7 separate regions of the Homo sapiens genome follow, and all the other regions are linked to region 1. The links come from fine-mapping of genetic effects on gene expression. A gene starts in region 1. Each other region holds a variant in brackets. All regions are shown on one strand. Distances are from middle to middle.

What was found.
Region 2: its variant is fine-mapped to the expression of ACOX3 in whole blood (TOPMed, PIP above 0.99). The same link has a PIP of 0.9 or more in lung.
Region 3: its variant is fine-mapped to the expression of ACOX3 in whole blood (TOPMed, PIP 0.98).
Region 4: its variant is fine-mapped to the expression of ACOX3 in lung (GTEx, PIP above 0.99). The same link has a PIP of 0.9 or more in visceral fat.
Region 5: its variant is fine-mapped to the expression of ACOX3 in pancreas (GTEx, PIP 0.98). The same link has a PIP of 0.9 or more in prefrontal cortex.
Region 6: its variant is fine-mapped to the expression of ACOX3 in whole blood (INTERVAL, PIP above 0.99).
Region 7: its variant is fine-mapped to the expression of ACOX3 in whole blood (INTERVAL, PIP above 0.99).

The regions. Positions count from the first base shown.
Region 1 is chr4:8,438,944-8,442,943 of GRCh38, forward strand. ACOX3 (acyl-CoA oxidase 3, pristanoyl) reads right to left here and starts at 1,780. Exons shown (of 18, transcript NM_003501.3): 1 at 1,705-1,780. TRMT44 (tRNA methyltransferase 44 homolog) reads left to right here and starts at 1,834. Exons shown (of 11, transcript NM_152544.3): 1 at 1,834-2,498. The coding sequence starts at 1,880. RefSeq lists enhancers at 1,668-1,907, 1,726-2,459 and silencers at 1,928-2,137, 2,188-2,247.
Region 2 is chr4:8,357,266-8,361,356 of GRCh38, forward strand. It overlaps a transcript of ACOX3 not described here. Among named protein-coding and RNA genes, the nearest start is that of LINC02517, 39 kb to the left of the region's middle. The variant C/T (reference allele first, on the strand shown) is at 1,992.
Region 3 is chr4:8,473,065-8,477,155 of GRCh38, forward strand. It overlaps TRMT44 (tRNA methyltransferase 44 homolog), which reads left to right. Exons shown (of 11, transcript NM_152544.3): 11 at 2,708-3,491. The coding sequence ends at 2,937. Among named protein-coding and RNA genes, the nearest start is that of TRMT44, 34 kb to the left of the region's middle. The variant C/G (reference allele first, on the strand shown) is at 2,438.
Region 4 is chr4:8,501,361-8,505,451 of GRCh38, forward strand. It overlaps a transcript of TRMT44 not described here. Among named protein-coding and RNA genes, the nearest start is that of TRMT44, 63 kb to the left of the region's middle. RefSeq lists an enhancer at 2,822-3,709. The variant A/T (reference allele first, on the strand shown) is at 1,822.
Region 5 is chr4:8,364,580-8,368,670 of GRCh38, forward strand. ACOX3 (acyl-CoA oxidase 3, pristanoyl) reads right to left here. Exons shown (of 18, transcript NM_003501.3): 18 at 1,703-2,501. The coding sequence ends at 2,382. Among named protein-coding and RNA genes, the nearest start is that of LINC02517, 46 kb to the left of the region's middle. The variant G/C (reference allele first, on the strand shown) is at 1,863.
Region 6 is chr4:8,334,642-8,338,641 of GRCh38, forward strand. It overlaps LOC124900658 (a long non-coding RNA gene), which reads left to right and starts at 691. Exons shown (of 2, transcript XR_007058013.1): 1 at 691-804; 2 at 1,858-2,274. The variant A/C (reference allele first, on the strand shown) is at 1,683.
Region 7 is chr4:8,347,389-8,351,479 of GRCh38, forward strand. No RefSeq gene overlaps it. Among named protein-coding and RNA genes, the nearest start is that of LINC02517, 29 kb to the left of the region's middle. The variant A/G (reference allele first, on the strand shown) is at 2,137.

The DNA of each region.
Region 1 (4,000 bases):
ACACGGCTGAAGCTTGAAGAAACAACAAGCCCGGCTCTAGTCACGCACTGGCAGCTGAATAGTCTACGCATGGCCGAAGCTTGAGGACTTGTCAAGCAAGTAAACGTAGTTAAAAATCTTAAGACTAATAGTTTTCCTGTAATACTGTTTTCCTATTGTTCTGTCACTGTATTCAATCTTTTTCCCAGGTAAGGACCTCTTTTGTCCTTGCTGGATACAAATATGCTGTATATTGTTTTGTTATTGTTACCCCCCATAACCATGCTAGAAGAAACACCTATATAAGGTGTCCCCATTGTACACATACTACTTAGTCAGGAAACCCAGACCCGTCCAGCCCAGCAACAATTCCGAGTCTTTAAGTCATTCTTTAAACACATAAACCAGAAGTTACAAGAGCCTCCTCCTTTAGCAAAACAAACAAACAACCTATTTGCTCAGCTGGCTGAAAACATTGCCAGCAGCCTAGACGTTTCTTCATGTTATGTTTATAAAAAGGCTAACATGAGAGACCAATGGCCTTGAGAAGCAAAAGATTTAATGCCTCAAGATTACTTTAACTCTTTCCCCAAGCAGATGCCAAGTTCAAGCATTTGGCTCTTAAAAACTCCTATTATTAAGAAATACTGTGTTGCTTGCTAGGAAAAAAGCTTTTAAGACCCAGTAAAAAAACTAACCTGCTTAGGACATGACAAAGTTGGCACATGTGCCTGTACTGGTTTAACACAGGTTTGATCCTAGGTCTTTATTTAAAAGATAGTTTCCAGCTATAAGAGAATTTAAAACCCTCACTGCAAGTGTATTACATAAAACACTATCACTCTGTCTCCCAAAGAGACTCAAAGTAAAAATAAAAGCGAGAACTCCCACTAATTTGTGAAAATTCTCAAAGGAAGGGATAAGGAGACCACTACTACTCCTGCTGCCCTCCTCCCTGCCACCTTGCCTAGTTCATAAGACAGGAGGAAAAGAGAGAAAGCAAAAAGTTAGAAAGAAACAAAAGTCAGATAAATAGCCAGACAACCTTGGCACCACCACGTGGCCCTAGGAGTTAAAAAAAATAATAATAATAACATCAACCCCCGACCTAAACTACTTGTGTTATCTGTAAATTCCAGACATTGTATGAAAAAAGCATTGCAAAACTTTCTGTTCTGTTAGCTGATTCATGTAGCCCCCAGTCACGTTTCCCATGCTTGCTCAATTTATCACGACCCTTTCACGTGGACCCTTAAAGTCGTAAGCCTTTAAACAGGCCAAGAATTTCTTTTTTGGGGAGCTCAGCTCTTAAGACGCAAGTCTGCCGATGCTCCCGGCCGAATAAACCTCTTTCTTCTTTAATCCGGTGTCTGAGGAGTTTTGTCTGTGGCTTGTCCTGCTACAGTAGGTGACAGATGACTTTCATCCCTCATGGGACAACGTTACATCATTCTTATGAAACAGCCATGGCTGCACTCAGACTTAGGAAGGCACTGGCTGTAATGCCAGCACTAAAAGCAAACCAGAACCCAAGTGGAGAAAAGTTAGCTTTCATAAGAGGACTCATCTTTTACGTTCACAAACTTAGGCTCCCTGACTTTTATCGGTAATCAGTACTGAGGACAATGCGTTCCACACCCGCTGGCTGGCTGATGTTTGATTCTGTAACTATACCACGCCCAGAATTCTCTCAAAAGGGAATAAAACACAGGTCAAATTCCTCACCCACACACTCCACAGTTCAACCCCTGCCAGGGAAACCAAAAGCAGGAAAGGATCTCCAGCGGCGCCATTCTCATTTCCGGTCCCAGCACCCCGCCTCCATGACGTCAACGCGCCGCGCCACCGGGCTGCGTCATCTCGGCGCGCCGCTGCCAGGGCTGTACACCTGCTGGCTGCCATGGCTGAGGTGGGCCGTACCGGGATCAGCTACCCAGGCGCGCTTCTCCCACAGGGCTTCTGGGCTGCGGTCGAAGTGTGGCTGGAGAGGCCGCAGGTGGCAAACAAACGGCTTTGCGGCGCCCGCCTGGAGGCCCGCTGGAGCGCCGCCCTGCCCTGCGCGGAGGCCCGCGGCCCCGGGACTAGCGCAGGCTCGGAGCAGAAGGAGCGGGGTCCGGGACCCGGCCAGGGTTCCCCCGGAGGGGGCCCGGGTCCCAGGTCGCTATCAGGACCCGAGCAGGGCACGGCATGTTGCGAACTTGAGGAGGCCCAGGGCCAGTGCCAGCAAGAGGAGGCACAGAGGGAAGCCGCCTCAGTGCCCCTGAGGGACTCCGGGCACCCCGGCCATGCTGAAGGAAGGGAGGGCGACTTCCCCGCCGCAGATCTGGATTCGCTTTGGGAGGATTTCTCCCAAAGTCTCGCCCGTGGCAATTCGGAGTTGCTGGCCTTCCTCACCAGCTCCGGGGCGGGATCGCAGCCAGAGGCGCAGCGTGAGCTCGACGTGGTTCTCAGAACCGTCATCCCGAAAACTAGCCCACATTGCCCCCTTACAACTCCCAGGAGGGAAATAGTCGTGCAAGGTAAGAGTGTTTTGATAGTGGACGGATATGATTAGATAAAAAAGCATTCATAGAACCTCGGGTCAATGAAAAAGTCCTAAGGGTACTAGTTCCTCTGCGATGTCCTAGGGAGGTTGTTAGGTGTTTCATAGTTTTTTGAGTGGGCGCATAGAAATGTGTGTCCTTAGTACAGAAGATGGGATAATTGATTGGGGTGGTGTCTGGAAGGCTTCAAAGAGACAGTGAAGGACTAGCTGGATATTGCGTAATACCTAGGAGTTTAGCAGGTAAAGCTGTAGGTGTAAAAGTGTTGGGGACCAGCCTCAACACCACCCGTAGGGTACTCAAAGTCCGGTGGCGACGAAGGAATGAGACGAGACAGGTTAAGAGTGCATAAAGATTGGGGGCCAGGGGGCCAATTGCAAAATGGAGGCTGCCAAAGCCTGGGAGCTCTGGTCTCCACACTATTGAGTACAATCACTTAGATCTAAGAAGCGGACGTTCGGGGCGAAAGGGTGAAAGGGAGACAGTGCATCATACATGTCATCTATAGCAGTGGCGGTTTAAATGAATCTCCTTTGTGCTCAAACAGCGTTATCTTTAACTTGTCGGAGAATAACCAGTGGGAGCGTGCTTAACTAGGAGCCTGCATGTCTGACCACATTGTAGTGATTCAAAGGAGTGTCTTTCTCCTTGAACACAGTGTTTATAGGTAAGACAGTAGGTCTCGCCCAGAGCATGGGAACATCATGACAATAAGAAGGCTTTCCTCCTCAGAGGCCTCTTGTGGCTTTCCACAACTTATTGTCTCATATTTTTATGGCCAGTTTATACAGGCATGCCATAAGCCTTTTCCCCAACATAAAGAGAGCTATTTATGCTGAGACAAATAACTGTGAAAGAGCATAGAGACTGGATGGATGGGAACCTACTAGTCCTCAGCGTTCGTTAAATCTCTGGCATTTATTTTTACTGCCCGTGACCTTGACACTTCAGCCTCAGCCACTCTTACCTGAAACTTTATTCAGCAGCATGTGTTTCGTATTGCCACTGTAACAAATTACTGCAAATTCATTGGTCAGTACAAAAAATTGATTGTCTCAGTTCTGTAGGTTAGGAATCCCCATTGGCTCTGCTGGTTTCTCCGCTGTGGGTCTCTCTCACGAGGCCAAAATCAAACAGCCTGCCGGCTGGGCTCTTATTTGGAGGTTCTGGGAAGGAATCTGTTCTCAGGCTCATTCAGTTCGTTGGTAGAATCCAATTTTTTATGTAGGACTGGGGTCCTTGTTCCCTTGCTGGCTGTCAGTTGCTGGAGGCTTCTTTCTGGTTCTTTCATGCAGCTTCCTACATCTCAGAGCCAGCAATGGGGTTGAATTCTTCTCATACTTGGAATCTCTCTGCCTTCCTCTCCTGCTGCTTCTCTCCTCCGCCTCCAGCCAGAGAAAATTCTCTGCTCTTCGTGGCCCATGGAGTTAGGCCGGGCTCACCTGGATAATCCAGAGTACTCTTCCTCTTGAGGTCTG
Region 2 (4,091 bases), 82 kb before region 1:
GACGGGGGCCCTCGAGGGGAATGCAGGGAGGACTCTGGGGCAGGGGCAAATCACTGTCAATGTTCAGCTTCAGTGCTGGGTGCAGGAACACTGGCATGAACCAAGGAGTACAATGAATCAAATTCTGGGCCCCTGTGGCCCAAAAGTAAATCAATTAAATTGGAGGGGCAACTATTTCTCCATGTGGAGTTATAAGTGATATCTATTTTCATCTTTAAAGTTTTCTACATTACCAAAATAGTACCTAATAATCACGTTAGTTTTACAATCAGAAAACGGTGGCAGCAAGCAATGACATTAAACTGAACATTTTTATTCCAATTATTCAAGTTTTTGCTGCACAGTATTTTCAAATGTTTTATTTTCAAAATGACTATTACAAAAAATGTAGTTTCCAGAATGTCATGGCTACACCTCAACCTACTCCACTCTTGCAGTGGGGGCAACAGCTTTAGGAGCAGGGACCGTGTGTGGGGGCTGCACCCTTGCAGTGCGTGGCCTGGACACGGCCCAAGCCCTCCGCCGCCCACAGACAACACTTTCACATTGATAAATATGCATGCCCATCAAATCCTGCTGTAAACCAAAACTAAAATTCTAAGTCCCCCAGCCAACTGAGTGCATCCCCTTGCAGCCACCGGGACCCAAAGAAACCTGAAAAACCAGTTCAGGCCATGAATGGGAAGGAGGGCTCGGGATGCCCCATTATACCTGCCCCGCTCTGGAATTTAGACACAACTGACCAACATTAAAATAAAAACAGAGATCCTAGACTGACAAAACAGACTCTCTGTAGCAATAAGATACCCAATTCAACGGGACTCCGGTATAGCATCACATGACACATAGTAGCCCCGAAGGAATCAAAGTATTTTACCTCAAAATATATTTCCTTGACATATGTTGAAATGGCCCTTGCAAAGCTGTCTCTCATGGGGGAAATGTGCATTCTGCAGAGAATCTGCTTCCCTTATTAGGCTTTTTCTGGAGACTCTGACACCTTTTAAGGGCCTATAAGAGACATGCACATCTATTCTCTCTGAAGCCTGCCATCCGGAGGCTTCATCAACATAACAAAAACCTTGGCTTCCACAACCACCCCCGCCCCCACCTTAACTCAAGCTGAGTTCAACTTTTTAGACAAAGCTTAACTCTTTCAACCCATTGCCAATCAGGAAATTTTTGAATCTACCTGTCAGAGACGTGTGAACCAGAGCAACTCCATCTTGAATATGAGCTGGGTAAAATGAGGCTGAGACCTACTGGGCTGCATTCCCCGATGGTTAGGTAGTCTAAGTCACAGGATGAGATAGGAGGTCAGCACAAGATACAGGTCTTAAAGACCTTGCTGATAAAACAGGCTGCAATAAGGAAGCTGGCTAAATCCCACCAAAACCAAGATGGCCACAAGAGTGACCTCTGGTCATCCTCACTGCTACACTCCCACCAGCACCATGACAGTTTGCAGGTGCCATGGCAACGTCAGGATGCTACCCTATATGGTCTAAAAAGGGGAGACATGAATAATCCACACCCTGATTAGCATATCATCAAGAAATAACCATAAAAATGGGCAACCAGCAGCCCTCAGGGCTGCTTTGTCTATGGGTAGCCCTTTTTTTATTCCTTTACTTTCTTAATAAATTTGCTTTCACTTCATGAACTTGCACTGAATTCTTTCTTGCGTGAGATCCAAGAACCCTCTCTCGGGGTCTGGATTGGGACCCCTTTCCTGTAACATCTTTCTGGTGACCATGGAAAGAACCATAGTGTGGAAACCCTTGACTCAAAGGTTTACTTTGGTTAAGTGATGGGGTCCTGTAACATCTTTCTGGCGACCACAGAAGTGACTATAGTGTGGAAACCCCAGACCCAAAGAGTAACTTTGGGTAAGTGGTAGGGTCTGGTAACGTCTTTCTGGTGAATCATGGAAGGGACGATACTGAGGAGACCCCTCAACCCAAAAGAAGTAGACTGCACCACTGGTTGGC[C/T]GACTTTGAATAAGTGGTGGGGTACCTGGGTAAAGGATGGGATTGGGTTAGAGGCCCAACGTAGGGGAGTTAGAGTCTGTCCTAAGACACAGTGGGTTAGAGGCCCCTCTTAAGGAAAGGTAAGGACGCTTGCTCAACCTTGGGTTAGAGGCCCAACTCAGGAGGGTTAGAGTCCCTTCTCAGATTTAGGGGGTTAGAGGCCCCTCTCAGTAAGGTCCCTCTCAGTAAAGTCGCTTCTGGCTAAGAGCAGGTTTGGCACTATGGGATGTTAACTGCTATTCTCTTGGGATTAATCTGCCTTGCACTCTTTGCTGATGGCTGTGAGTGACAGAATTAGCCACGTACAGGATTGTAGGACTTGGGGAGTTTTTTCCTCCTTAAACGGGGAAACTTGGGAGCTGACGGGACTGCTGGAAAAGATCCCTTCATGACTGACAAGCAGCCACCTAAACTTTTCAGTGTTGCTGCAATGGATGGGTCTTTCTCTGACCTCCCTGAGCGCCTCGCCTTCCCCATCCTGCCTCAGGCAATGCTTTTCTCTCTCTGTGCAAACTGGTTGAATAAATTGTAAAAAATAATTGTTTATCTCCTGTAAAGTTTTGATTAATGGAATAAAGGATTTGTGAGGCTAGTCTTAAGCTGTAGCCAACCAGGTCTGGTGTGCTTTCTGTGTCTTTCTGTATTGCTCTGTCATAAAGAGGAGTACCTTAGGATAGAGCACGGACTTAGGACACCTTTAAGCCTGCTTTTCAAGACAGCTCAGCAAACTGGTCAATTACAAACTTTGCTGCAGGTCCCTCAAAAAACTGGATGAGGTTTCCTTCTTGTCTTCTATGTTCTTGGGAGCTTGACCTTGTAACCATGTGGCCATGCTTTCTCTTTTCACAATGGTGGCCCAGGTTCAGGGTTCAATTCCTGGCTTGGAAAATAAGTTCTTTATCTTCTATGTATTTATATGTATTATGTGTGTGATGTTTATGAATGAAAGAGCTTTAACTAATTGGTTTAAAAATAAGTGCTTAAATATTTTGTCAGAAAAGTAAAAAGTGTAATGCCTTTTAGTTCATGTGACTGAAGTAATCTTTGGGAAATAAGGAGTTTTAAAGATTATTGGCAAAATAAAAATATCTTCAAACATGTAAACATTTGGTCTAAATTATGCAGGTGAGATATTAAGTTTGCTAAATGCTTTAAGGTCATAAACTGCTTCTTTGACTTTTTTTTTTTTTTTTTGAGACAGAGTTTTACTCTGTTGCCCAGGCTGGAGGGCAGTGGTGCGATCTCGGCTCATTGCAAGCTCCGCCTCCTGGGTTCATGCCATTCTCCTGCCTCAGCCTCCCGAGTAGGTGGGACTACAGGCACCCGCCACCACGCCTGGCTAATTTTTTTGTATTTTTAGTAGATACAGGGTTTCACTGTGTTAGCCAGGATGGTCTCAATCTCCTGACCTTGTGATCCACCTGCCTTGGCCTCCCAAAGTGCTGGGATTACAAGGGTGAGCCACTGCGCCCAACCTGACTTTTAAAAATTATTCAGTTTCCTACTCTGGAGCATTAGATTCTAGATAAGGCCAGGGACATGTGGAGTTAGCCACGCCCCTAGCTATGCTGGAGTCAGCCCCCTTATCTGCACTTCTGCCTGGTGTGTCCTAGGCTAAATTCCACACCTGGTACACAATTAGAATCCCCAACTTACCAAGGTTTTCACCAAGAGTAAAAGTCACTAACAATTAACATCGTCACATGTAATTAAGACTGCTAAAAAAAACAGTTTTACATGCAAGATGTGTAAGAAAAGTGAAATGTGTCTTTTGGTAAAAGATTATAAGAACACATGGAAATGTGGATTTTTCTTACCTAGATTAAAGAGTTAAAGAATTGTTTTAGGCCGGGCGCGGTGGCTCACGCCCGTAATCCCAGCAGTTTGGGAGGCCGAGGTGGGCGGATCATGAAGTCAGGAGATCAAGACCATCCTGGCTAACACGGTGAAACCCAGTCTCTACTAAAAATGCAAAAAAAAATTAGCCAGGCGTGGTTGTGGGCGCCTGTAGTCCCAGCTACTCAGGAGGCTGAGGCAGGACAAAGGCGTGAACCCAGGAGG
Region 3 (4,091 bases), 34 kb after region 1:
TCATGCGAAAACTATGCTCTGAAGCTGGGTCTTATCTCTGTATGAGGTTTAGGTTTTGTTTTAAGCTAACGTGGCTAGTCTCAGAAAATGTTTATGAGAGTGAGGAATTGGAAATGTTTCCAGATGGCTTCAGGTCAGCCAGCCCTGAGCATGACCCATGAGGGCCACAAGGGCCAGCCCTGCCTCTGTCCCTGCCCCTTCCTGAGGCCGCCAAGGGGCGGCGCGCTGCATCCATGCTGGCTGGTATGGAGCCTGGCACCGTGCTGCCGGGTACACGCGGGGCCTCATCTCATCCTGCACTCATGGCAGAGCAGGCCTTTCCTCCTTGAACATGTAGACAAGTCTCAGAGAGGTCAGTGCGCCGGCCCGATGTCTCCCAGTGAGTGGAGAGGCCACGCCACAGTCCGGGCCAGGTCTGACCCAGCACTGGCACCCCTGAGCCTATGGCATCATCCGAGGACTGTAATCCTCAACCCGTTCCTCAGAGCAACTTGGTGAAAGGGAGTGTCTGTCTGCTGTCAGAAGCAGTGGTGGAGATGGCGGCTCCTGTGCTGAGGTAGAGTCCCAGGGGATGCGCACGGTAAGGAGGGAGGAGGCGGCAGGAACTTGGGTGGAGCAGACTGTGGCTCTGTGGTTCCATTTCAAAATGAGGAGCACATTTCCAGAGGAGGAGAGTCTTTCTAGCTGTTGGTTGTCTTTCTAGCTGGCTAGAGCAAGTGCCTCTGGAAGGCCGCCCCTTCTGGCACCTGGCCAGATGGGGGCTCAGGTGTTAAGAGGGGCGGCCGGGAGCTACCTGCCATGTCCAGGGTTGTAGACACGGGGAGTGGGTCAGTGAGGCTGGGCCAGCCTGGAGCCTGCCTGCGCCGTTCGGGAGCCTCATCTCTATCATCAGCGCCCGCTCCTCAGTCCTTAGACACCCTGCAGGTCCTGCTTCCAAAACATGGTTGGGTGTGCTCTTAACTCCGGAGCCGCGTGGGAGGGCCTGCCGCCAGCTGGCCTGTCACGTTGTGGTGGGGAAGGGGGTGCCGAGGCTGGCTCTGAGGGGAATCTGTACTCAGCCTTTGGCCTCAGTGATCCCCCACCCCCCATTCTCTTGACAGGTCAGGGCATCAGGCCAGAGGCCCCTCACTGTTTGGGATCATGGGGAGTTGGGGGGAAGCTCTGGCCCCTGGGGCTCCTCCTGAGCACCCTTTAGAGGGTTCCAGGTCCCTCAGTGGCCAGGATGTGCCCTTCTGTGCTGCGCCAGGAGGTGCTGCTGTGGGGACATGGGCAGAGTGTCGCGGGACTGCCTTAACAGGAGACTTCAGGTTAAGAAACCTCAGCTCCAATGTTGGGAGGCGAGACAGAGAGGCAGCCGTGGGAGGGCAAACAGGGTCAGGCCTGGCCTTGGCGGTGCTTCCAGCCAGGCTGTGAGGGTGAGCCCCCAACTGTGGCGCCGTTCTCTGGGCTCATTTCTCTAGTTTCAGGGGAAACTGTAAAACATCAGTCTGTCAAAAGCACACAGGCTCGTTATTGCCACACACAAGGTGATTTGAAGGCAGAATTCGAGCTTTAATTCCTACACTTTCAAGTTCTCTTTGGAAGTCGGTGAGCCAGACTTCCTCACTGAGGCTCCTTTATTCCCCCGAGCCTTCTGTCGTGAGCGGTTTCCTAGCTTCCAGCGAGAACCAGGAAGGAGGTGGTTGCTTTGGCCATGTTTCACGGGGAGTTGTTGGATTCCCACAAGGAAACGGCCAAATGGGAGCGTAGGGGGGTATCTCGGCCCAATTTGGGCGGCGGGGTCAGGAGGCAGCCTAGAGGAGGCCTGCGAGGCCTGGGACCCAGGTGACGAGCGGGCCCACAGCAGCCCTCTCCTGGCCCCACCCCACTCTGATGTCCCTCCAGCTCCCCAGTTTGGAGATCAGCCCTGGCCATTGGGTCCCAGTGGCACTTTCAGAGGGGGTATCTAAACTACTGCACATAGGCAGGTCCCCCTTCGTGTTCCTGTTCCAGAGCTCATTGGCCTCTGTTACTCCACACTTGCACCTGGAGGGGCTCCGGTTGGGAGGCGCATGTAAACCCAGTGCACCGGGACGGCACCAAGGAGCAGAGGCTGCCCTGCACCAGCCCCGTCCTTAGACTGCGTGGAGGGACCTGCGCCTTGCCCCTCTTTCTGCCCGTAATGCTGACACAGTCCTCAGAGGTCGGGGCTGCAGCACAGATGTTTTCTCGTGTTTCGGCTCTCACACCGTGGTCCCTCCTTCCTCCACTCAAGTGATCCTTCTAAAATGGTGGCTCTGCAGGACCTGCCTCTCAGCCAGAGGGAAGGTCGGTGGCCTCAATGATGAGGCCACAAGGGACCCAGCTCTGTCCTCTGCCCTCCCCTCTGGCTGTCCCTCGAATGTGGCCAGTCCTGGTGCAGTCTGTCCTGGGACACTCGGGTTTGCTGCTGCTTTGC[C/G]TAAAATGCTCTTCCTGGGTCTGCGCAGGGCTGCCGCTCACTTCCCGCAGGGCTCACCTTCCCCGGCCTTGCCTGAAGACACATCCCATACCTCAGTCACTCCCACTGGAGGCAGACTCACTGTGACCAGCAGGAACTCTAGGCTGTGTTCCGGTTGTATCCCTGACCCTGGATTGGCACCTCCCGTGGCGTGGGAGCTAAAGAGAGGCTGGTGAATTAAGGAACTTTCAGGTTTACTTCTCAGTGTGTCTTCTCTGTTCCAAACCACAGTTGTGAATGGGAGAGTTCACATCCGCGACTGGCGAGAGGAGACACTGTGGAAGACAAAGCAACCGGAAGCGAAACAGAGACTGCTCTCTGAAGCCTGCAAAACCCGCCTCTGCTGGTTCTTCATGCATCACCCTGATGGCTGCGCTCTGTCCACGGACTGCTGCCCGTTTGCCCATGGGCCTGCGGAGCTGCGGCCACCCCGGACCACCCCGAGGAAGAAGATTTCATGAGCTGCATCCTTGCCAGCCGAGGCCTGGTTGGGGAGGCCAAACCAAGGAGAGCTTCCCCAGCAGTCGTCAGTGCTGTGGTCTCTGCTCTGGCTGTGTTTCAGCCCACCTCCTCCCAGCTTTCTCCACATCCTCACAGTGATGAACCGTATTTCATAAACATCACACGCCAGAGAAGCCACAGTTACTCGGAAGCCCCCAGCTGACTGCCTGGCTTGTTTCAGATGCAGCCGCTTGAAACGTGCGCAGCATCTTCATATCATAAAGATTGTGCACGGATCCTTACAATGTCTCCTGGGGGAGAGCGGCTGAGGCTGCCTTGCACAGGCCCTTCCCAGGGCGCTGTCCGACGCCTGCCCCACCATGTCCACATCTGTGAAGAGGATGGGGCTCCTCGAGAAGTAAGACCGTATCTGCCAGCGTTTCTCACCACACTGGAGAGCAGCTGCTCTGGAGCAGGGATCCACCAGATTGGTATTTTTAAAAAAGGTGTCAGGCTTGCTATGTTGAGGTTGTTTTTAGAGTTACAGAGAATAAAAACACTCATAATTTCCTGACATGGGCCACTCTAAGTGGCATGAAAAAAAAATCCTAAGTGAATTGTTGACAGGGCTTTAAAAATGTAAATATCACAGATGACAAAGGTAAGACCTACACCTTCCTCCCTCCTCCATGAGACCCTCTCCCCAGAAATACTGCAGCAGTCCTTTTTAGTCCTTCCAGAAAAAAAAATCCTGATTTGTTTCTCTTTTATTTTTATGAAGTGATAGGGTCTTGATCTCTCGCCCAGGCTGGAGTGCAGTGGCAAGATCATAGCTCACTGCAGCTTTGAACTCCTGGGCTCAAGCCATCCTTCTGCCTCAGCCTGTCAAGTGACTGGGACTGTAGATGCACGCCACCATGCCTGGCCAACTTTTAAAATTTTAGAGGCGGGGTCTCGCTATGTTGCCCAGGCTGGCCTTGAACTCTTGGGTTCATGCAGTCCTCCCACCTCAGCCTCCCAAAGTGCTGGCATGACAGCTGCGAGCCATGGCGTCTGACCCCCGATGTTTCTATTTAAAGTTATTTCTATGGTTTTATACAAAAGGTCACATGCAGTCCACACTGTTCTGCCGTTGACTTTCTGCAGTGTACCCTGGTGCCTCTCCATTGGGTAT
Region 4 (4,091 bases), 62 kb after region 1:
TAGCAGCATGAGCTCTGGGACCGGATGTCCTGGGTTCAAATTCCAGCTCTGCCTCAAAAACTTGCAACCTTGGGGAAGTCACTCAACTTCCTGTGCCTCAGTTTCCTCCTGGGAAAAATGGGGATGAGGATAATCTTGGCAGAGGATTGTTGAGAAGGTTGAGTACATTTGGAGCCTAACAGCTTTAGCGGGCACTTGGCCACTGTGAGAACTCAGTGAGGGTTAGCGATTTCACACAAGGGCCTTCTCACCAGGCTCCGGCAGACGGGACATTCCTTTGCTATTTGAGATGTTTTTGGACTCTTCCTCTCCCTCTTTGCCCCTTTCCCTTTTCCTTTCCCCTTCTTCCCTTCTTTCTTCTTATGGGGAGCTAGCTGGGAGGTGCTCAGTTGGGGCCCTCAGTGACTGGAGTCTCAAGGGCTCTGCTGCCATCGGCTGTGAGCTCAGCAGCCCCTGTCCTTTCTGGGCCCCAGCCTCTCCATCCAAAAACCAGAAGGCTGCCTGGAAGGTTCCAGAAGTTGCTCTTGGTCCTGACCCCTGCCCACATCTCTCTGTTGAGAAGACTGGTGCCACTCTGGGGACAGCTGGCTTCCCGCCTCTTCCCGGGTCCCTGGGGAAGTAACTCCTCTCCCAGGAGGAGACAGACAACTGGTCCTCTGAGCAGCAGCTGAATTTTACAGAAGGGCTATTGATTGTTTTGTTCAAAGAGGGAGAATAAATTTGGTTCTGTGAGTCATAACGTGACATTCTCCAAAATGGTTCTGACCCATAAAACGGGGGCTCCTGTTGATATCAGCCCTGAAGGTTAATGGGTGTGTTTTCAGAATACTCTGCCAGGAATGACTCCAGAAACTGCCCTGAGTGCATCCATGGGAATGGTCCTCGGGACAGGCAGCCGCCATGAAATAGACACCCTGCCCTGCCTTCTTCCTGTTGGTGTTTGTTGACCACATCTGCAATCCTCTGATGAAGCAGGGGGTCAGGTGGAGGGAGAGGAAGCTTCTGAATATTTCTAATCTTCAGCTGCTTAAAAAACTACAACGAACTTAGTGGTTTCAAGGACACATATTTAGCTCATGGTGCAGTGGGTCTGAAGTGTGAGTGCAGCTTAGCAAGGTTCCCTGCTCACGGTCACATCAGGCTGCAATCACGGTACCAGCCAGGGCGTTGGTCTCAGCCGAGGCTCAGCTGGGGCAGGCTCTGCATCCACACTCACCAGGATGTTGGCAGTATTCGATTCCTTGCTGGCTGTTGGCCAGAGACTTGTTGTGCCTCAGTTTCCTCTTTGGCAAAGTGGGGTTGATTTTTCCTGGCCACAGGCCCTCTCCCAGGGCCAGCTCACACACAGCAGCACAACCAGTTATGATCTTATGCAAGGCTGTCAAGGAAGCAGTGCCATTGCCTTGGTGGATGCTATTGGTGAGACGCAGGTCCCAGGTCCCAGCTCCCAGATCCCGCTTACACTCAGGGGAGATTAATCAAAGGTGTCAGTGCCAGGAGGTGGGGAACATGGGCCACTACAGGGTCTGCCCACCACTCTCTGGATTGGCCCAAGACCACTTCTTCTTCACCCTTGAACACACAACAGACACAGGCACACACAGACTCAGCACAGGCTTGAATACCATCGGGATGAGGTAATGTCATGGGTTGAGGGGGCGTTCCCCACCCCTCACCTCCCACATGAGAGGCAGAGGCCAAGGTTTGGTTTCTGGCTGTGACCCTGGGCTGCTTTCCCACTGGGTCTCTGCTTCATTATCTGTAGAGGGAGGACTTGGACTTGGCAGGGGTTCCTGGACAATTCTCAGCCAAAGAAACCCG[A/T]CCCCTTCCCCAGGCTGCAGGAGCCGCATTTAGGGGTGTTCTCCCGCTCTGCACACACACCCTTGAGGGTCTACTCCATTCACCTTGCAAGGCAAGCTGTCCCCTACAGCCCCGGAAAGGGTGGCACTCTATCCCAGCAGACCCTAGGCCGTGGCTGCAGCAGTCGGACCGGCTCAAGCATCTGCCCCGGGGAAGCAGCCTAAAGCAAGAGAATCACCCACATGGGAATCCGGACCCAGGTGTGGAGGACACTGGGCTGACAGTGTGCACAGGGCCATGCACCCACCAGCAAGGGACACAGCACTCGGTCCCAGAGGTGGCCTCTGTTGTGGCCCCAGCCTGCAGAATGATCTCAGGCAGCCACCCGGATGGAGGGTTTGGTGGAACTCCTGGGCCACATACCTCAGAGAACACAGCAAAGAGTCAGCACCCAGTAAGGTGCAGAGAACTTTCCACCCCGATGCCCACACAGGGTTCCTGCCATCAACGGGAGTCAGGTGGTCACAGGGCTTCTCTTGGGAACAGAATTCCCGTCCAGAAGCTTCCTCTTCTCTTGCTTTGGCCTGGGCCCTGGCTCCCAGTTCTGTCCTATGTCCCCGCATCTCTGGCTGTTCTTCAGTGCCCTGGTTGCTTCCCCTTCACCCTCCTAAATGTTGGAGTTCCGGAAGGCTCTGAGCCCCTCTTGTTCTTATCCTCCTGGCTAGCTTCGTCTCCAGCAAGCCCTCACACGCACCTCGGTGCCAAGGCTTGCAAACCTCAGCCTGTCCTGGCCTCGCTCCCAAGCTATGGGACAGAGCGTCTCCCCCGAGGCTCCCGAGCCTGTGGTGCCCTCTGCAGTCCCCGCACCCGTCCACACCTGCTCTCTCCTGCTCCCCCTCCAGCCTCTGAGCCTCTGAGGTTGGTGGGCATCTTGGTGGTGGCTGCTGGGAGGGTCTCAGGGCGGGGCAGGGGCTGCATCAGGGGTCTGCACTGCATGGAATGGACATGGCATGGTGTAAGCCCCTCAGCCTGAGATTCAGCACCATTTCCATGCTGCTCATGTCCCCACCTCCTCGGCTTTCCCCATGGCCCACCTAAGTCTCCTGCGCTCCTGCAGGGCTGAGCAATGGCCCCCATTCACTAAGGCAGGGAATCCCCTCTGCCCGTGCCTGCTCCCTTCCCCGCCAGGTACCCGCGCCAGCTTTACTGCCTTCCCTCTTCCTCCCGGGCCTGCGCTGCTGCCCTCCTCCCCTGGAGCTGTGCCAGCTCCAGCTTTTCAGCCAGCAGCTCCTGCCCCGCCCCACTCATTGTGTCCAGACCTGGGCTCCATGCTGACCCCCAGCGTGTACGGAGCTCCTGCCATTCCTTGGGTGTGGACCTGTGCCGAGTCTGTAGTGTGCACAGGTCCTGCCAATCCTTGGGTGTGGACCTGCGCCAAGTCTGTATCCACCTTCAATAGCTCATCTCTTCCACCCGGGAGGAAGTTCCCTTCATCCTCCCTGTGGGGAAGAGGGCACTGAAGCTTGGCAGAGCTCTTCCTGGGGTCTCAAGGGTCTGCTCCAAACCCTTGCTCTTGCCCCTGTCACAACCCAGGCACCCTGGCTGCACCTGCAAACTGCACTCCATGGTGGCAGCCCTGCCCTGCCAGTGCCAGCCCCGTCTGCCTCACCACCCCAGTCCCTGAGCTCCCTGGGGCTGAACGCCACTTCTCTGGATTCTAAATAGGCCCCCGCAGGGTACCTGTTGCTGTATCTACCACTTCCCCCAGCCTCCTGGTCTGGGTCCTGCTGATTCTGGTCATTACTCACCTTCTGCTCTACCCACCCTCCCCTGCATGCTGCCCCCAGCCGCAGAGGAATGCCCCCTCCATGTCCCACTCCCTCCACCAACAACAGCTGATCTGTCCTTTCTCCTGGCTGCGTGACCTCTCAGGAAGAGGCGGTGCTACACTGAGGGCCCTGGCAGCCTCTCTAGGTCCCTGTCCCTCACCTTTCAAAGGAGAGATAGGACAGAGGTGGCAGAAACTGGCTGGAGCAGGCTTCTGTCCGGGTGCTGCTCCGGCTGTGACTCCTCACCCCTCAGAGCTGCATCTTCCATCTGCGAACAGGAGGCTGCAGCCCCTGAGGAGGTGGCATCTCTGCCTGTGGGAAGTCAGGTGCACTGAGGCCAGATGCAGGGAGGGTGCTCCAGGCTCAAGGGTGCAGGAGGAGCCTCCTGCCCTGGGAGGCCAGCACTCAGCCCCAGCTCTGCCACCTTGACCTCCCAGCACCTCTGCAGCCCGGGCATCCTAG
Region 5 (4,091 bases), 74 kb before region 1:
GCATCGCAGAGCTCTCCTGCACGAGAACCTGTCGTGTCTGACATGGTGACATCGTGACATCACAAAGCTCTCCTGCATGAGAACCCGTCATATATGACACCGAAGTCAAATGTGTTTTTTTCTGTAAACCTTGAACATACCCTTGACCTTGAACAACTTCTGTGACCTGCTGGTAGAAAAACAGGTAGTTTCAGACCAAAGGCTGGACGAGACCACAAACCAAGGTCCCAAGTGATAAAAAAGGCAAAACATGAAAACCCCTCCGGAGATGCCCAAAGCTGTTACTTGGGAGACAAGGACAGCTGGGGCCTGCTCTGGAGGGTGGTGAGGCAGGAGTGACCGTGACTCTAACTCAGGCTGGCCACCACCTAGAATCTAGCTGCGGGCACATCAGAGGACTTGGGAGCCTGTTCCTTCTCGCTTAGAAAAGCTACAGGTCTAGGTAAAGGAGCCGTCCACACACACACGGCCTGAGGCATCCTATGAGGGGGACCCCTGGTGGAAATCTGCATGACCCCAGTTGACAGCCCACGCAGGCCCAACTGCTCTTGGGCTGGGACCCCCAGGCAGTGGGGCTGGGGACCCCGGGCCCGTGAGGCCTGTGGGTGGCAGCCTCAGTGGGGAATGAGCCCCTCCGACACTGGCAGGCACCACTGACGTGTTCTCTGGGTTTGTACTCGGAACTGCTCCATCTAATTCGCAAGGGCCTGAGCACTCTCATTCCCATTCTCTCTGAAAGCAGGAAGAGTATCATAGACAAAACACATGTAACCCACGAAGAGTTTGTTTAAACCCAAGGAAGCTTCTAAACCAGAGTAAGATGAATTCAGGTGGGGATGCTCCTGGGTTCGAGTGACAATGGATACCAGCACCTACCTATTGCGTCTCAGCCCTGTGCTGGGGCACTCAGGCACCAGGGAGGTCCCATGGCTTCTGGTCCCGCTCGGCCACCTCCTGCTGTCTGCCTGCGGCAGTGTCCAGCCTATTGGGACCAGTCTCCTCTCTGCAGATGCAGCAAACGGCACAGCTCACCCCACGCGGTTGGCTGAGCGTCCCACGAGATGATGAATCCTGAGTGCTCAGTAAGGTGCTGGCAGGCGGTAGGTGATCATCAAAGAAGTCACTAATTACCCCTCAGATGCCCCTGGAGCCCCAGACGGGTGGGATGTGGTGGGGGGGTGGTGTCCTGACCCTTTTCTAACATGAAAATGGCTTCAGAAGTGATTTCCAGTGCTGGAAATTCAGTTTTTAAAAACATTCTGGACCATGCCCTTCAGACGCTCAAAAGTTCTCTGGGCTACCTGGAAAAATAAGAACTGGTCTTATTTGGTTCGGCACCGTCCTGAGACATGCTGGGTTACATCTGTTTGATGGGCTGTGGTGATACGAGTGTGGCCACGGGGGTCAGGGGGCACCAGAGTGACCCAACTCCCTGCTACTGAAGACGAAGGCCTTCCGTGCCCTGAGCTGATCAGAGGTTAAGAAGCAGGACCCAGATGCAAAGACAGAACTGCTCCGGGAACCTAACACTGGGAAGGGCAGCCAAGCCCATGGCCCTGCAGGGAGCAGGAGTGACCGGGGGAGGCGTGCACTGATGGCCCCGGTCTGCTGCAGTCAGGCTGTGGCCAGCGCCATGGGGACAGGCCACATGTGTGCAAGGACTTGCTGGGTAGACTCTGCAGGGACAAACAGATCATACATGTTACCAATAAAGTGATTTGTATATAACTGGCGGCAGGGGGAGGGGGGCGGTTGGAGACTGAATTGCCCATTCAAATCATTAGACTTTTTAAAAAAACATTTCCTCGATGGAAATTTCCAGTTCCACAAAAGAAAGTAATCAAACAGATGTTCCTCCTTAA[G/C]TCTTAAACCACGACATTCAGATGATCTATGTGCAAATTAATAAGGTTATGACATAATTCAATTATGTGACAAAGCCGAGGGAGAGTTGACAAAGAACCAGACTGGCATCATTGACTTCTCAATGAAGTGGAGCTCGGTAAAAAATCTAGATGAATCACAGGTTGTCTGACCAGAAGATCCCTGACAATGGGCTGTTTACTTTAGAGAAAGGAGCTGAACCCTGAAAACTGAATGTGCGAAATTCTAATTATCAAAAAACCCACGGCGCATCAGGTAGACATGATCATCTGCATTTCTTTTCCACGCTGCAAATCACCGCGATCCCAGATTAGTCCAGCCGGCCGGGTGCCTCCCTCCCGTCCGCCTGGGCAGTTGAGGCCAATCAGCAGTTTAGGCGCACAGGTGCGGGCTCAGAAAGCAGCAGCAATCTCCGGCGTGTTCTGGAATCAGAAGTTGAGGTCCACGTCTGATTAGTTCCCTTCGTTTCATTAGACTTGGCTGAATGTGTGCCAGTCCCACTAGAGCTTCGATTTCAGACTTCCTATGACAGGTTTGTTCACAGAAAACTCTGGCCACCAGGATGCCCGCTCCAACACCTTGCTTTCCTGCAGGACAGCGCCCCAGAGGTTTTTGTAGAGCTGCAAACAACACGTACACAGCAAGTGAAGACAAAGAAATAAGAAGGAAAAGATTCCTAGACGGCTGAGTGTGCAAATGCAACTCCTCAAAGTTTTTGTTAAAAACACAGGAAATTCGGCTGGGCACAGTGGCTCACGCCCGTAATCCCAGCATTTTGGGAGGCCGAGGTAGGCAGATCACCTGAGGTCGGGAGTTTTAGATCAGCCTGACCAACATGGAGAAACCCCATCTCTACTAAAAAAAAATTCAAAATTAGCCAGGTGTGGTGGTGCATGCCTGTAATCCCAGCTACTCGGAAGGCTGAGGCAGGAGAATCACTTGAACCTGGGAGGTAGAGGTTTCAGTGAGCCGAGATTGCACCACTGCACTCCAGCCTGGGCAACAAGAGCAAAACTCCGTCTCAAAACAAACAAACAACAACAACAATAACAAAAAAGCACAGGAAATTCTCTGTCACTTTTTAGAGAAATTTTAAAATGGTTTAAATTTATATGAATATTTTCTTTTTTTTTCTAGTAGAAAACAATTAGGACAATTCAATTATAAAGTACTATAAAACACATTTATAATGAAAATCACCCCTCGCCCTCTTCTTTGGAAATTATTGGCTGGGTGAGGTGGCTCGTTCCTGTAATCCCTGCACTCTGGGAGGCTGAGGAAGGCAGATCACTGGAGCTCAGGAGCTTGAGACCAGCCTGGGCAACACGGCGAAACCCCATCTTTACAAAAAAAAAAAAAAAAAAAAAAAAAAAAGCAAAAAATTAACTGGGCATGGAGGAGTTCACCTGTAGTTCTAGCTACTTGGGAGGCTGAGGTGGGAGGATCACTTGAGCCCAGGAGGTTGAGGCTGCAGTGGGCCGAGATTATGCCACTGCACCCCAGCCTGGGTGACAGAGTGAGATCCTATCTCAAAAAAAAAAAAAAAGAACTGATCGTGGCAGTGGACACGCTGTTTCTTAGTAACTGCAGCCACCGCAGGATGCTGCAAGGCTGCATCGACTGCTGCTCTGAAATCTGCTCTCACACCCCAGGCCGCTACAGGCCGCACAGGTGGCACGTGGCCACCAGCAGCAGGATGCCCTCGCCGAGTGGCCCTTACTGGCTGATTTCTGGACCTGGGCCACCACACCCTGCTCCTCTGGTCCTGCCCCGGGCCAGCACTCCCCTACGGGAGGTGCAGACTTCACTGCTCTCAGCCTAAGTGGCCTCACTGGGAAGATGGGGAGAGACGCTCCTGTCTTGGAGGAAGGTTGTACAAATGAAGGGCGAAGGGCAGCTGAGCAGACACTTCACCCGTGCAGGGTGGAAAGGGGCAGCCCAGACCATCTCCAGGGCCTGGGGAGGTGGTCTATTGTGTATCCAGCTTACGCTGACCCATTTTATTGAGAAGAAACCCCTCTGCCTGCACCCGCTAAATGCACTTAGCAACCCCTCCTCCCCACTCTGCTACTCTGGGCTCCACAGACACAGACCCAGGCTGCTGCTCCACAGGGCCTAGGTTCCAGCTTATGTTTCACAGTTTGGAGCAGCGGGCTTGATTTAAGGATGGTCTCAACTCCCCTGCAGCTCTGTTTGTTCGCTTATAGTGA
Region 6 (4,000 bases), 100 kb before region 1:
TACCCCCATTTTATAGATGAGAAAGGGAAGCTCAGAGCACAAAGCAACATGCCTGACTCCCAGCGGGACATCTGTTCATTGACTCTACAGACACTGCGTGCTAGGTCCTGGGTGCTGGTGAGGCTGGGACCCAGCCTGGGTCTCCTGACCCCATAAGAAAGAGGTTTCCTGGGGTAACAGCTGCAGCCTCTGAAAAGGAAAAATCCTTCTCCAAGTTCCTGGAAATATCCAGGGCTTTGCAATGCAGGGCGTACTCCTCCCAGGGACCCTCCTGGCTTCTCTGGAGCCTTGGGTGAGTGGTCAGTGCTCACCTGCCCCTGGGGTTGTGGCACTATACGATTGGGTCTTTCCCAGTCAGGGTTCCTTCTGGAACCCACCACCCTCCCACTCCTCCCCTACAGTGATCGTCCTGGTGCTGTGCTCAGTGTCCACTGAACACACCACACGTACAGCCAACACTAGCTTCGTGAGTCCTACTCCACGCCACGGGCAATGCGAGCCTTGGGGATGTGGACACAGACACGCTGGGTTGAGACACTCAGCTGTTGTCCCAAGTGGTGCTGTGCTGGTAAATGTTTAACAACTGGCTCTTGGTTGGGGCAGTGTGACGTGCAGCATTCCCCAGTTTCCACAGTGTGAATACTCCCCCTACGTTGCCAACACAAGGTCGCTGGTGCAGAGCTGGGAGGAGATGCACACAGTTGGCTCTGCTAGCTGAGCAGGGTGAAGCCGGCACCAGGACACCATTGACTAAGGGCCATGGAGACCCAAGAGGCAGCTGTTGTAGGAGAGGGCCAGGGCCAGGTATGTTTTAGGTGTCTCAGGAAAACCTCCTGCTCCAAGCGGGTGGATGGGGAGAGAGCAGTGCTGCGGTGCAGGAGAAGATAGTTCTGGAAGCACCACCTGCCATGGGCCTACTTCACAACAGGCACTGTGTTCAGTGTGCCAGACACCACCTCAGCCAGTTCTCACAGCTGACAGGTGAGATAGTTGTGACAATAATAAATTGATTGTACTTTTAGTTCCCTCACATTGTAACGCCCCAGTGGCTCCACATTAGATGAATTTGAGGGAAAAAACAAAGCCACTGTTTCAGCCTTGAATTATTCTGAGTTTTTTTTAGTCTAGTCTCCATGACCATATGTAAAACCAAGACTTAACTTTTTTTCTATCCAAAGAACACATGAATGAGGGCCAAATAAGACTTTTCTAAAAATCAATCATTTATTTGTTCATTTAAATTTTGTATAGGTAACAGAAGAGGGAAGGGTCACATATAAAGAATTAGGAATCAGAACAGCTTCAGACTTGATGATAGCTATACTGACAGCTAGAAGATGATGAGGCAATTCCTGCAAAATTGGCCTCTGCCTGCCTTTTACTGAAGGAAAGTGATCTCCAAACTAGAATTCTATACCCAGCCGAACTGTCGATCAAGGCTGCAGATCTGATAAGGTCATTTTCAGACATTTAGGATTGCAATAATTTTTACTTCCCCAGAACCATCATTAGAAAGTCAACAGAGCATGAACTGCATAAAAACAAGGGAGATATGGAATAGCTGATGTGTCCCAAGGTCTAGAGAGGAGATTTAGACAACAGGCAGAGAGTTTGGGGTTACATTAGCATTAGGCATGCACACGCACACACACACACACACACACACAAAAACAAAAAAAAAA[A/C]CAAAAAACAATATCTTTATGGGGAAAAGTTAAGAAGGGAAAAGTAATCATAGTATATTACACAGCTCTGCTCTGAGTTACATTTATATAATCATGCTTATCTATGTGGTGAGTTCTTATAATTTTATGTTGCCTCAACATTGATTTTGAATATAAATTGGACTTTCTCATACAGAAGCAGGGCTCAATCACCATCGACACGGTTTCCAGTTCTCCACTTCCTCCCAGTTCCTTGATGTGTCAATCCAGATATCTGGCATATGCAACTTCCTCCTGGTGAACACCTCCATATGGAACATCCAGATACAACCTTCTTGACTCATCCCACTGACTCACCCCACATGGACCGTGCAGATATGCCACAGTAGCCACCTCTCAGTCACAGCATGACTTCTGGAACTTGTGCCTGCTTGCTTCAAACCCACCGATTAAAACTTCCTGCAGGAAATCTGTATAGAGAATGCCCTAGACTCCAATAAAGGCAAGGGTCCTTCTGTCTCTCTCCCTCACATGCTCCCTGACTTCTGTGTGTGTGGCCTCTGGGCATGCCGTGTACCCTCAGGACCTGTAAGTAATAAAATCTTTATTTCCATCTTGTGTTTCTCCTAATCATTGAAAGGCTGCTTTCCATCTCAGAGATCTTAAACTAAAACAATCTGACACGAATCACACTCTCTTTGCGCTTGGGGGTAGGCTGATGGGAAGGAGGGTGTGAGGTTGGGGGCAGGAAATGAGGGAAAGCTAAAACCTCCTCTTCCATGAAGGGAAGTCAATAGGTCTTGACTAAACTGGAAAATTGAAAAGCAGCAATATAAGAATGTTATTTAGGAAAATACAGGCATACATTGTTTTATCGCACTTCACAGGTACTACATTTCTTTTTACAAATTGAAGGTCTGTGGCAACCTTGCATTGAGCAAGTCTATCGGCACCATTTTTCCAACAGCATGTGCTCACTTGGTGTCTGTGTCAGCATTTTTTAGCAATAAAATATTTTGAAATTAAGGTATATACATTTTAAGACAGAATGCTAATATTATATGCTTAGTAGACTACAGTAGAGTGTCAACATAACTTTTATATGCACTGGGAAACCAAAAAAGTTGTGTGACTTGCTTTATTGTGATATTCACTTTATTGCAATGGTCTGGAACAAAACTTGCAATATTCTGAGGTATTCTTACACCAACAAAATTGGCTTTTTTTTTTAAAAAAAAATAAAGGAAGTGGTTGCCTATGGGGAAGAATAATTTGAGTGGGTGGGGTAGAGGGGCAGGGCACTGCTGGTTTTTATAGAAAGCCCTGGGGATTATTTAACTTCTTAGATTACATGCACATGCAACCTTTTTTTTTTTTTTTTTTTTTTTTGAGACGGAGTTTCGCTCTGTCGCCCAGGCTGGAGTGCAGTGGCGCGATCTCGACTCACTGCAAGCTCCGCCTCCCAGGTTCACGCCATTCTCCTGCCTCAGCCTCCCGTGTAGCTGGGACTACAGGCGCGCGCCACCATGCCCGGCTAATTTTTGTATTTTTAGTAGAGACGGGGTTTCACCGTGTTAGCCAGGATGGTCTCGATCTCCTGACCTCGTGATCCGCCCGTCTCGGCCTCCCAAAGTGCTGGGATTACAGGCGTGAGCCACCGTGCCCGGCCGCAACTTTTTTCTAAGATCTTTAAAATTTTTTAATTGATATGTAATAATTATACCTATTTATTTTGTACATGTGATAGTTCAGTACATGTATACAATGTGTAATGATCAAATCAGGGCAACTGGGATAGCCATCACCTAAAACATATGTCATTTCTTTGCGTTGAAATCATTCAAAATCTTCTCTTCTAGCTGTTTTTAAATATTTAATACATTATTGTTAACTGTAGTCACCCTAGTAATTTTCCATTCATTCACTAACTTCTTCCTAAACCACTCTTCCTTACCCTTACCAGCCTGTGAGAATTACTATTCTACTTTCTATGAGGTCAACTTTTTTAGCTCCCACATATGAGTGAGATCATGCAATATTTGTCTTTCTGTGCCTGGCTTATTTCACTTCACATAATGACCTACAAAATCCACGTATCTAGACATGACAGGATTTCATTATTTTACATGAACAAATTGTATTCCATTATATATACCACATTTCCTCATCCATCCATCTGTTGATGGACACTTGGCTTGATGTTGATTCCGTCTCTTGGCTATCGGGAATACTGCCACAGTAAACATGGGAGTGCTGATATCTCTTCAACATACTAATTTCATGTCCTTTGGACATAATCCCAGTAGTGGGATTGCTAGATCATATGGTACTTCTATTTT
Region 7 (4,091 bases), 92 kb before region 1:
GTTAGGGTTAGGGTAGGCTTACCTCACTGCAGAGCCAGAGAACACACCCCCGTAGGGGAGCTGAGGGAGGTCTGAGCCTCCAGCTGCTGCCTGTTTCTCCATGGGTCCTGGTGAGGGTGGACCACCCCAAGCCTACCTTGAATCTGTTCCTTGACATGCTCCTTAGATTGAGTCTTTAAAACCCTGCCTGTCCCAAGTACTCAGAATCAGAAAGAATCACCCAACTGTGTTCTGTGGCACCAGGTATCAATTCCCTGTGTACCTCCATGGACTCAGCGCCATCTCAGAAGTGAGGGCGGAGGGAAGGAACCTTCTAGAAGGAGGAGTTTGCTGCAGAACATCCAGAGCCCACAGCACTGAGTCGTCTCCATGCCCCTTGCCTGTGGTTCTCTGTAGCACATGGCAGGGGGGTGGGTGGTGCAGCACCTCCTTCTGATGCGTTGAGTGTCAGCACTGCAAGGTCCCCTACCCCATGCCCAGTGCCCAGTGCCCAGTCCCGTGGGAGCTCCTCATTTGGGGCAGAGACCAGGGCAGAGGCAGCGAGGGCTCCTCTCCTCCCTCACTCAGGGGCTACAGGCTGGTCACTTGAGCTCTCTGGAAATCAGTCTCCTCATCTGGAAAACGGGGCTCATCCTGACCTTGTGATGGGCATGAGGTGATGGTATCAGATAATGTGCGCGAACGACCCTGTAAATCATAAATTGGTTGCAGTTTCTCTCCAGCGACACCCTAGTACACTTTGGAGCCTGGTGAACTTGAGTTTGCATGCCAGCTCCTGACCTCCTATGGCCCACGTCCTCACTGGAGGATGGGCTCTGGAGGCTGGAGGGCTGGTGGAAGAGGAAGTGAGATGGCAGTTCGCTGGCTTCTGCATCAGGCCCCAACTGTACCCTGGGCCTCCCAGGCTTGCACGTGCCTCCTCACAGCTTCCCTTGAACATCCTGTATCATCCAGCAGCCCTAAACCGTGTGATTTTTTCCTCTGGGAGGTGACAGCCTGGACCAGAAGTTGAAACCTGGCCCCAGGGTATGGTGTGCCCCACTGTCAGAGGGACCTCAGATGAGCCACTAAGCCTCTCTCTGCCTCAGTTTCCTTATCTAAAATGGGTGGAATCAGCTGGGCGCCGTGGCTCATGCCTGTAATCCCAGCACTTTGGGAGGGCGAGGCGGGTGGATCATTTGAGGTCAGGAGTTCAAGACCAGCCTGGCCAACATGGTGAAACCCCATCTCTACTAAAAAAATACAAAAATTGGCTGGGTATGGTGGCGGGTGCCTATAATCCCAGCTACTCGGGAGGCTGAGGCAGGAGAAATCACTTGAGCCTGGGAGGCAGAGGTTGTGGTGAGCTGAGCTCGTGCCACTGTACTCCAGCCTGGGTGACAGAGCGAGACCCTGTCTGTAAAATAAAATAAATAAAATAAAATAAAATAAAATAAAATAAAATAAAATAAAATAGGTGGAATCATCTGGTCCCTGGCTGGGCTCACAAAAATCCCACAGGGAATGAATGATTATCAGTCTACTGGGGCTGCCATAGTGGGGTTCCACAGACTGGGGGCTGGAACAACAGACATTTATTTTCTCACAGCTCAGGGGGCTGAGAGTCTGAGACCAAGGTGTCGACAGGATTGGTTTCTCCTGAGGCCTCTCTCCTCGGCCTGCAGATGCCACCTTCCCTCCGTGTCCTCACCTGGTCATCCCTCTGTGACTGTCTGTGTCCTCATCTCTTATAAGGATACCAGTCAGACTGGATTAGAGCCCACTCTGATGACCTCACTTTACCTTAATCACTTTTTTTTTTTTGACACAGAGTTTTGCTTTTGTCACCCAGGCTGGAGTGCAATGGCGCGATCTCAGCTCACAGCAACCTCTGCCTCCTGGGTTCAAGTGATTTGTCTGCCTCAGCCTCCCGAGTAGCTGGGATTACAAGCATGTGCCACCGTGCCAGGCTAATTTTGTATTTTTAGTAGAGATGGGGTTTATCCATGTTGGTCAGGCTGGTCACAAACTCCCTACCTCAGGTGATCCACCCACCTTGGCCTCCCAAAGTGCTGGGATGACAGGCGTGAGCCACCGCGCCCGGCCTAATCACCTCTTAAAAAGCCCTGTCTTGGCCAGGCGTGGTGGCTCACGCCT[A/G]TAATCCCAGCACTTTGGGAGGTAGAGGTGGGCGGATCACGAGGTCAGGAGATAGAGACCATCCTGGCTAACATGGTGAAACCCTGTCCCTACTAAAAATACAAAAAAAATAGCGAGGCGTGGTGGCACACACCTATAGTTCCAGCTACTCGGGAGGCTGAGGTAGGAGAATCCCTTGAACCTAGGAGGCAGAGGTTGCAGTGAGCCAAGATCGCACCACTGCACTCCTGGAGGTTAGGGCTTCAACATACAAATTGTAGGGGGATGCAACTGAACCTGTAACACCTTGTGTGGTCATCACTCCAGGGAAGGATGTAAAGAGCTAGGACTCCCACAGCATTGTGTTTGCAAAGGAAGACCCGGGACCTTCAAGGTCTTTGTTGCTGACCTCCTCTCCCTCAGGAAAGGCAGAGGGTCATCTCCTCCCTGGAGTGGCTTCTCCCATGCTGACCTCACTTCTGGGAGGGGCCAGGAGGAACCTGCCTGCGTTTCTGAAGCCCAGCTCTAGCACATTTCACCCAGAGGCCAGGATCCCATGCAGAATGCCAGAGGCTGAGGGCAGCGGGCCGACCTCCCTTGGCAGTTTCAGAGTCTTTCTTCAGTGCTCTGTTATTTTATACAGGATTCCTATATGCGAAAAGAAATGCATACCTTACAAAATTCCTCAGTTACTGTAATTGGCAAGTAAGGATCTCTGGAAAGAGCATTTGCTCATTTAATAGGACTGGAAGGGAGCCGCAGCTTTTTAAATTTTTTTTCCTGGTGATGGTTTTTAAAGAATTTAAAATGCAATGATATTGCAAGGAAGAGTGGACTTTTCCCTGGTTGGCAGACTCCATCTAGCCATGGCATACTGCAGCAAGATTTCTGCGGCTGCCCACACGTCCTGCCTGGTGTAGAGGTGGTTCCGTCCAAGCTCCTCGGCTCACCACTGACCTCAGCTGAGCCCCTCACGCGCGGGTCCTACGAGAGGCACAGCAAGGAGACACCCGTCCCTGGTCAGGGGAACAGAGGGGAGCCGGCCCCTCATGCACAGCCCATAGTTGGGGGACAGCAGAGCCCATGTCTCCTGTGGGGAGGGCAGAGACCCACACTGGTTGGAGTGGCGAGGCCATGCCTGGAAGTCCGGCACTGGCGCACTGGCCAGCATGGCCCCCTTCCTGCTTCACCATCTAGACCTGCCCAATTCATTCCTTTAATTCATTAACTCACTTCTTCATTCACTCACTTCACTTGTTCATCATTCCCCCATTCCACTCCAGGGCTTGCTGAGTGCTTTCCCAGTGTTTGTGTGCGGCCCTGTGCTGGGAGCTGGAGACAGGGACCCTCCAGACCTGGGTCCTGGGCTCCACGAGCTTCCAGGCCGCTGAGAGGAGTGGCCAGGCCCAGTCAGTGCTGTCCTGAGGGCTGGGGCTGCTGCAGCCAATGGTGACAGAGGCCCACCAAGTGATTCCTTCTGGAGAACAGGCCATGGCTGGGTCGGAAGGTGACAGGCTCCTGTGACCCTGACGCCAGGGGAAACTCGAGTCTTGCCGCCTATACTATGTTCACATCCACACAGAGGCTGCTGGTCAGGGACGTGGGGAAGGGTGGGGAGGGCACAGAGGGGGAGCGCCTCCCAGCCGTCCTGGGTTGGGAAGGGCTAGATGGCCAGGTGTGTAGGGGTGGTGCTCACACAGATACAAAGGCCAGGCTCCGCAGGGGCCAGGCCTTCTGTGCAGGACTGGGATGCGCAGACAAGGGTCCGCCCAGAGCTCACACTGTGGCTACCCTAGATCCTGAGAAAGCCCCACACTGAGGAGGGAGAACCGGAAGCCGAGAGCAGAGCCGGCCTGGGCACACACGGGCAAGGACACAGAGAACACAGGGCGGGACTGTTGTCCTCACCTCAGCAGCTTCACCAGCGCACGGATGGCCCCTCCCCTGCCCCCAGGGACACTGACCACCCCCCTTTC